Linked DNA regions of Homo sapiens. The protein of the gene in region 2 interacts with the protein of the main gene of each other region in a pairwise test. Each region holds a gene or a part of one and is shown on either strand. Other genes may lie near its edges.

The links.
Region 1: the proteins of KHDRBS2 (region 2) and RPP30 interact in a two-hybrid assay, tested with the Homo sapiens proteins (one large-scale study listed by BioGRID).

The regions. Positions count from the first base shown.
Region 1 is NC_000010.11:90,895,924-90,899,613, reverse strand, and holds part of RPP30 (ribonuclease P protein subunit p30), read right to left. Parts: intron 3,302-3,690; coding exon 3,222-3,301; intron 1-3,221. UniProt on the Homo sapiens protein: Component of ribonuclease P, a ribonucleoprotein complex that generates mature tRNA molecules by cleaving their 5'-ends. Also a component of the MRP ribonuclease complex, which cleaves pre-rRNA sequences.
Region 2 is NC_000006.12:61,894,495-61,898,325, reverse strand, and holds part of KHDRBS2 (KH domain-containing, RNA-binding, signal transduction-associated protein 2), read left to right. Parts: intron 1-3,492; coding exon 3,493-3,691; intron 3,692-3,831. UniProt on the Homo sapiens protein: RNA-binding protein that plays a role in the regulation of alternative splicing and influences mRNA splice site selection and exon inclusion. Binds both poly(A) and poly(U) homopolymers. Phosphorylation by PTK6 inhibits its RNA-binding ability.

The DNA.
Region 1 (3,690 bases), on a different chromosome or scaffold from region 2:
GAAGTAGGAATACAAAAAAATTAGGAGAAAATAGAGTTTGGAAGGGTAACTTATGAAAGGCCATAGTGTCATGAAAACAGACCCAAACTCTGTCCTTAGAAATGGAAAGGGATTATGGAGAAAGAGAGAGATACCCATTAGCTACAAAGGTGGCAGAATCAAAAGAACTTGAACAGAAATTTAGCTATGAATTATTCCTTATTTCAAGTAATAAACGTAAAGTCAACCATAAAGTGTTAAGCATTATTTTCCCATTTATCAAGATTAACTTAGTAAATCTACTCTGCCAATTATTTTAAAACACTTTTATTTGTAAAAGGGATAAAACTGCTCTCAAGGTCATTAAAATGCCAACATAATAAGAACCTCAAAATAAAAACTGTCAATGATTTCCATTTCACCAAATGAAAAACGTCACACTTATAGCTATTAATTTATGTCACTGATTCTGTACCCATAGTCTAAAAATCAACTGAAATATAAACATTATGAAAATCAGCACTTTTTAACAAAATGCATTAATTTCTTTAGTGTCTTTTAAAAATAAATGCATTTCTTGGTAACAGCAAGACGTTACATTTGTGTATGCTTTAGTTTATAAAATGTTTTCACATATAGTATTTCCTTTAATCATCTTGCCAAGGAAAATCTAAAGGATTATCTACGAGTGAATAATTTTGTTCACAAGGGGCTAAGGCAGGTGTCCCCAACAGGTTCATTTTGGTCCAGGGGCTGATTGAGGGCATGAACTTTATCAATCACAGGCCAAAGACCCTGACCTTGGGCCTCTTTCCTCTGTCCTTTCCCCACAACCTCCTCAGAATTGCTATTCATTGGTTTCTAGATTTCTGGACCCCCAAAGAACCTAATTCTGATTTCCTGTGGCAAGCCTTCCAAGTTGAAAGCTAACTACCATGTGTCCCAACTCTTCTGCTTGCCAGGTATCCATGTCTGCACCACCCTCGTGATTCCTCTCATCATGAGGCTTCCAGACCCTTTAAGGACTGAGTAGACATTTTCCAATAGTGTTTCAGTGCACTGCTGTCCTTCTTAAATGTGGCACTCAGAATGATACAGATGCCGGCTGAGATTTCATCAATGAGAGTATAATAACGAGGCTTTGAATTTCCTTGTCTCAGAATCCTTTATTTCTTCTAATATTACCTAGGCTGAATTAGCAATCTTAAGAACACATCATACTACCGTCTCATACTGATCCCAATGGCAACGAAAACCAGGGTAACCATATTTTATCATCTAGTTTAGGACTCTCTTCAGGGAATAGAAGTGCTAATAAGGTCACAGAAACAGCAGGCATAAACTAGAACTGTCCTGGGTACACTGGGGTGAATGGTAATGCCACCCAAAGTTCACAAGTCTTCTTTAAGTTTAGCTTCTATAAAAGCCTGATTTTAGACACAGAAAGACAAACATCACATGTTCTCACTTGTTTGTGGGATCTAAAAATCAAAGCAACTGAACTCCTGGAGACAGAAAGTAGAAGGATGGTTACCAGAGGCTGGGAAGGGTAGTGGGGGGCTGAGAGGGAGGTGAAGATGGTTAATGGGTACAAAAAAAATAGAATGAACAAGGTCTAGTATATGATAGCACAAGAGGGTGACCATAGTCAATACAATTTAATTGTATATTTAAAAATAACTAAAAAAGCATAATTGGATTGTTTATAACACAAGACATATGCTTGAGGGGATGGACACCCCATTTTCCATGATGTAATTATTATGCATTGCATGCCTATATCAAAATATCTCAGTACCCCATAAATATATACACATACTATGTACCCACAAAAAGAAATTCTAAAAAAAAATACTTTACATATTATGTGTTATATGCTGAATAGCTGAGTTCTTAAAGTCAAATGCAGGACTTCCTATTTTCCTATATATAAAATTATGTATGTATTTATATTTTAGTTTCTGTTTCTTGTTTAGTCCATTTTGGAACCCCAACTGTTACTCAAAATCCTGATGAATGTTTATTTAAAATAGATCAAAATAATGACAGAACTATCAAAGTGTGAACCAACTGTTCCCTAATTTCAAGAAAATCATTATTCAAAATCTCCATTAATTTGACCACTCCCAAAGCTTATGTGATGAGTTCTAGGCTACATAATACAAAAATCTCAAACTAAAAATGTTGAAACTAAAAGCAAAATCATCTAATTTACGGCAAGCCAATACATAAGCAGTTCTCTCAAGTGGAAATCAGATCAATAAAGCCCAACACACAAGCCCTCAATAACCTAGCTATTCATATGACAAATAACTCAGTCTATATGTAGCAATCTACTTTGAAGTTTAAAATTCACTTGGGTGATATCAATGAAATTGCTTCTTAACCACTACAACTAGTCCTAAGAATTATAAAGATAACGAAGACAAAACAGTGATCAAAAGCTTAAATTGTTTTAATAAAATTTCACTTTCATTTTCCAAAGTTTCAGCATACTTTCAATTTTTAACATCTGATGAGCAGGAAACTCAGTCAGTGAAAAGGTACATATACAAAATGTGAGTAAAAAATGTACAGTCTGGCCGGGCATGGTGGCTCATGTCTGTAATCCTAGCACTTTGGGAGGCTGAGGTAGGAGGATTGCTTGAGCCCAGGAGTTCAAGACCAGCCTGGGCAACATAGTGAGACTCTGTCTCTATTTAGAAAAAGAAAAAAAAATAAAAAAGGTACAGTCTGGACACAACTTGACCATGTAAGCAAACATGAGAAAAGAAACATTCTGAGTTATAATAAATGTAAAAGTTACAGTCTATGTTTTGTTAGTTGGATTTTTAAAAATGTATTTGCTGGTTTTGTTTTCCTAATAAATAGTTTAACACATATTTTTAACATATCCGTTCTCTAAAACAGAGATTTTCAACAGGGAAAGCATGGCCTTCTGGTGAGGGAGAAGAAGGAAGGGAGATTAGAAGCCTATCAAAATGTCGGCAGGAGCACACATGTATAGCTGGAAGAACTATTCAATACTTATTTCTGTAATGAAAACTATATTCATTCTACAAACTTTAGAAAGTAAAGCCTGAAGTGAGGGTGAGAAAACACTGATGACTGTGTTTAGAACAGGTTGAGAAAAGATGATCCCAAAGGAACTCTGTAGGGTAGGGCAATAAAAATAGGTATGGCTGTAAAAATGACTTGCTTTTAACATGACCATTCAGTTTGTACTGGAAGAACTTGCTTACCTCCATGGAGAAGCGCTGCTCGGCAGTTGGTGGACACCGCAGCCTTGGCGTCACTTTCAGAGAGCCCAAACAGCAAGCCTCTTGGGGGAGCATTAAAGATTTCAACCCAGAGTCACCCAAGGACACGAGACTAACACAAACATAACAGAAAGTGCCAGCTAACCTGGTCATCTTGAGAGGCTAATTAATTCAACAGCAGTTCTTAGTCCAACTGGAACATGCATCTGAGAAAAGACTCATTTAACTCTAAGCTTTTATCATATGAAGTCCCTCATTCCCTCTTTTCTATCTCATGATTAATTAAAAAACAGAAGCATAAAGCTCTCTATAATGTTATATAATTTATTTTTGAAGTTATTAATTGGTAAACTTACAGTAAAAGGTTGAGAAAAATACATGTTCAACTATAATACGACTTCAAATTCAAAATTTCCTGAAAGACAATGTCAACAACTTTTTACTCAGAAAA
Region 2 (3,831 bases):
ATTTGTTATTGCTTGAAAATTAAAGATTGGTCATACCAAATGCCCACAAAAAAAAAGAAAATAGCTTTACAAAATAGAAAATCTTATTAATAAGAGAACTTTGCATAACATGAGTTAACAATTCCTAATTTGAATTGTTATGAAATTATTACTTTATGAAGTTATTTAATTACACTTATATTCAAAAAGATGATGTCTAGAATATTTTAAGCTCTATAATTTGTTGAAAGTGTATTTAATTAAAACAATTTACATTTCAATAATCCTATCTATGATAACTCTAATTTTCCAATAATAATGTATACCAGAGAACAAAGCATTACATCTATATATTGTAATAATAATTTATTTTGCATAATTGATGAATGAAAATATATGACATCTCTAACACACATCACCACTATATGTTGCAGTGAGTGCAGTCACTGAAAAACGAAACATCGGGGTAAATTTTGAAGGCTTTTGTTTACCACGTTGAGAACGAATACATAGAACTAATAGAGTTTGTTAAAGAGGAGAGTAGTCATATTTGTTTATGCGAAAGACTACTCAATTATCACTGTGGTTGATGCAGAAGAGTTACAGTGATTGAGAGAGAGAGAGAGAGAGAGAGACAGAGACAGAGAAACCGTCTTATGGCAGGGGAGCCAATGAGAAAACAATTCCATCATCCAAGGCAGATAAAAATGAGCAGCATTTGGAATAGACAGGGATAGGGCCAGATTAGAGATTAACATTTATATGAATTAATGCCAATTAAACGTTGGAGAAGAAGAGTTCCCCAAGAGAAAGATAAATTTTTGGTGTCTAGCCTGGTGAGAAATTGATGATATCATTAACTAAGAGTAGGTGAAGGATCAAATTAAATGAAGAATATAATTATTCTTGTAAATAATCTGAGCTCTGTGGATTGCTGGTGTGACCTTGGGCAGGTGACTTGTTCTCTCCATGCCTTAATATCTCAATGTATTTTTAAAAAACTTAGAACTGCCCACATGACAAGCTTGTCAAGATGCTTAAATTGGAGTATTCATTTAAGGCAGTGGTTCCCAAATTGGCCTGTATTTTGGAATCACTGGGAGCTCCCTGTCTCCAGAGATTGTGGTTTAATTGGCCTAGGGTATGGCCTGGAATTTGGAATTTTCAAAAGATCCTCAAGTAACTTTAACATGCAGGCAAGTTAAGAAACTTCTGATATAAGGAACACAAGCCAAGATATGGCATTATGTTAGGAAGAAAACAGATTATAGCCATCATCAGAGGTAGGGATTGCAGGGTGCAACCATGAGATCGAGGATAGAAACTGGGGACATCCAGATTCCAAAGTGGGTCCAGGAATACAAGCCAGTGAAGGAGGATAACGAATAAGGAGGAATGAGGAAAAGTAGAGAAAAGCAGAGTCATAAAAGTCCAAAGAAACATTTTCCAGATAATAGTCCACAATCTTAAAAATAGTAGAAAGGTGCTGTGGCATGGAGACTGTAAAGAAATCTAGTGGATTTGGAAATCAGTAGGCTACTGGTGATCTCAGCCAAGAGCATTTTCAACAGAGGGGTGAAAGCAAGAACTAGACTGATAACATTCAGTTCAGGAATGTAGAGGAAGTAAAGAATTAAACAGAAAATATTCTTTCAGCAAGTCAGACAAATAAACGACAGGATACTGTGGTGTGGTTTTAGCCAGGGGCAGTATCCTAAAAAAAGTGATTTGAATTAAATTGGAGGAGAGAACAATGAGGTTAATATTCCAGGGAAAGAACATAGTGGATAAGAGGTAATGAGTCAGGTTCAGGAGGCAGGTTTGCTAGGGCTGTGTCTGGTAGTCAGTTGATGAAGGAAGAAAATGGAAAATTAGATTTGATATGAGCATCATATAATATTAGAGCAGAAGGAAGTACTATAAATTTAGAAATCTGCATTTTACTCATTAGAAAAAAAAATATCTATCTTAAGCCTAGGTAGTTATAATACTTACCCATGACTATTCAAGGGTATAGCGAAGGCTCGTGAATAGAGTAGGGTGACCATATAATTTATTGCCCACACATGGATATTTTTGAGAGTGTTAAAATGCTAAACTGAACAGGAAGCTAGGACAACAGTTATAAAACCTGGACATATGCTCATCTTGCTTATGAGGAAACAGAAATGTGCTTGGAGGAGCAGTGAAGGCAAAATTGGTTTTTACATCCCTTTATGTATTATCATGGTAATACAGAATACTGTATTCTTAGCCATGTTGTACTTGCAGCCAGCACTGGGCCTCTGGGTCTTTGTGTTTCACCTTCTCCCAATCTAGGAGAGTATTCTTTATACATTAGACTCACAATAAATTCTCTCATCATTTCTCTATTCATCAGCTCTGTAATCTATTTAAAAATTTTAAAGGTTTTGCCAGCATTCGTACCCTTCACTTATAAATGCTCACTTTTATTTTAAGCAAGAAAGAGCCATCTGACTGCTATTCATAGCAGACAGCATAACCTATGTCCCCATATGTGCCTACAGCCAAATACTGTGATTGTTGACATCTCAATGATCATCATTTTTTTCCCCAAAGCTTTAGTGTTCCCACTGAAAGCAGTGCTATCTAGAGGCCAACCTTTCAGACAAAATAAAAAGTGAAATAACTGTTCTTTTGCCCAAAGACTTCAGACAAACACTCAACCATTCTAAAGGCTTCAAAATGCCATAAAAATTGGCCACAACCATTTGATCTTACACTTTTAGTGCAAGTCAATTTTGTATCAAGAACTGCAATACAGAGTATTCAGTCTGTTATTTTTATTACAGATACTAAAGTATTCCTCTAACACCATAGTTATGGTTAAGAAAATATATTCTGTCAGGGACTGCACCAGTTCAGGGGGTTACAGGCATGATGATAAATCAGTGACAAAGAGTTGTGATTTCAAGTAATCTCAAACTTAAGCAGCTATAGTAAACAGAATGATATCACTATGGTTAGATTCCCACATTTTATTTAAGTGCAGCCACCTTTTTTTTTGGTAAATGACAGCATTGTCCATCACTATCTGTAATCCCCAGCATAAAGGAGATGCAGACATCTGAAACCGCTCAGTTTCAGAGATGGTCCAGTGAGTCATATATCAGACGATGCTCTGATTTGTGTCTTCTTCGAGAATTTGGAATTTAATGGGGTTATATTCAGAGTGGGTTTTTGTTTGGGTTTTTTTTTTTTTTCTGGCTTTGGGTTTTTAGTTATATAAAAGACAATAACAAAGTATTTTACATGGTTTTTATAAGAACTAATCATAGTCAGTGTTTACAATTATTGTCTTCTATAGATATCAACACACTTTATATCTTATATAATTTCTATTAAATGCATACACACACACACACACAGAGAGAGAGAGAGAAATTTGTATTTATTTCATTGTATGGAGGCTGTGAGATGAAAACTTTTTCTGTGATAGGCCCTTTTCTCTCATCACCTGTTTCTCATCTATACATGACTTGTTTCTCTTAGGGGCCGTGGGGGTGCCATTCCTCCTCCCCCACCACCTGGACGAGGTGTTCTCACCCCTCGGGGAAGCACTGTAACCCGTGGAGCGCTTCCAGTGCCACCTGTAGCAAGAGGTGTCCCTACCCCTCGAGCCCGGGGGGCACCAACAGTGCCAGGATACAGGGCACCTCCTCCTCCAGCCCATGAAGCTTATGAAGAATATGTAAGTACTCTTAAGAAATAAGTTGTAAGGATGAGTTAAATTGATTAGTTAACAAGCTACGTCTCAAACTGTTCATATACCGTGAATATAGCAGGTAATGTTTGTTGCAGAAACGAATGTCATTTACAACAGAATTTAAG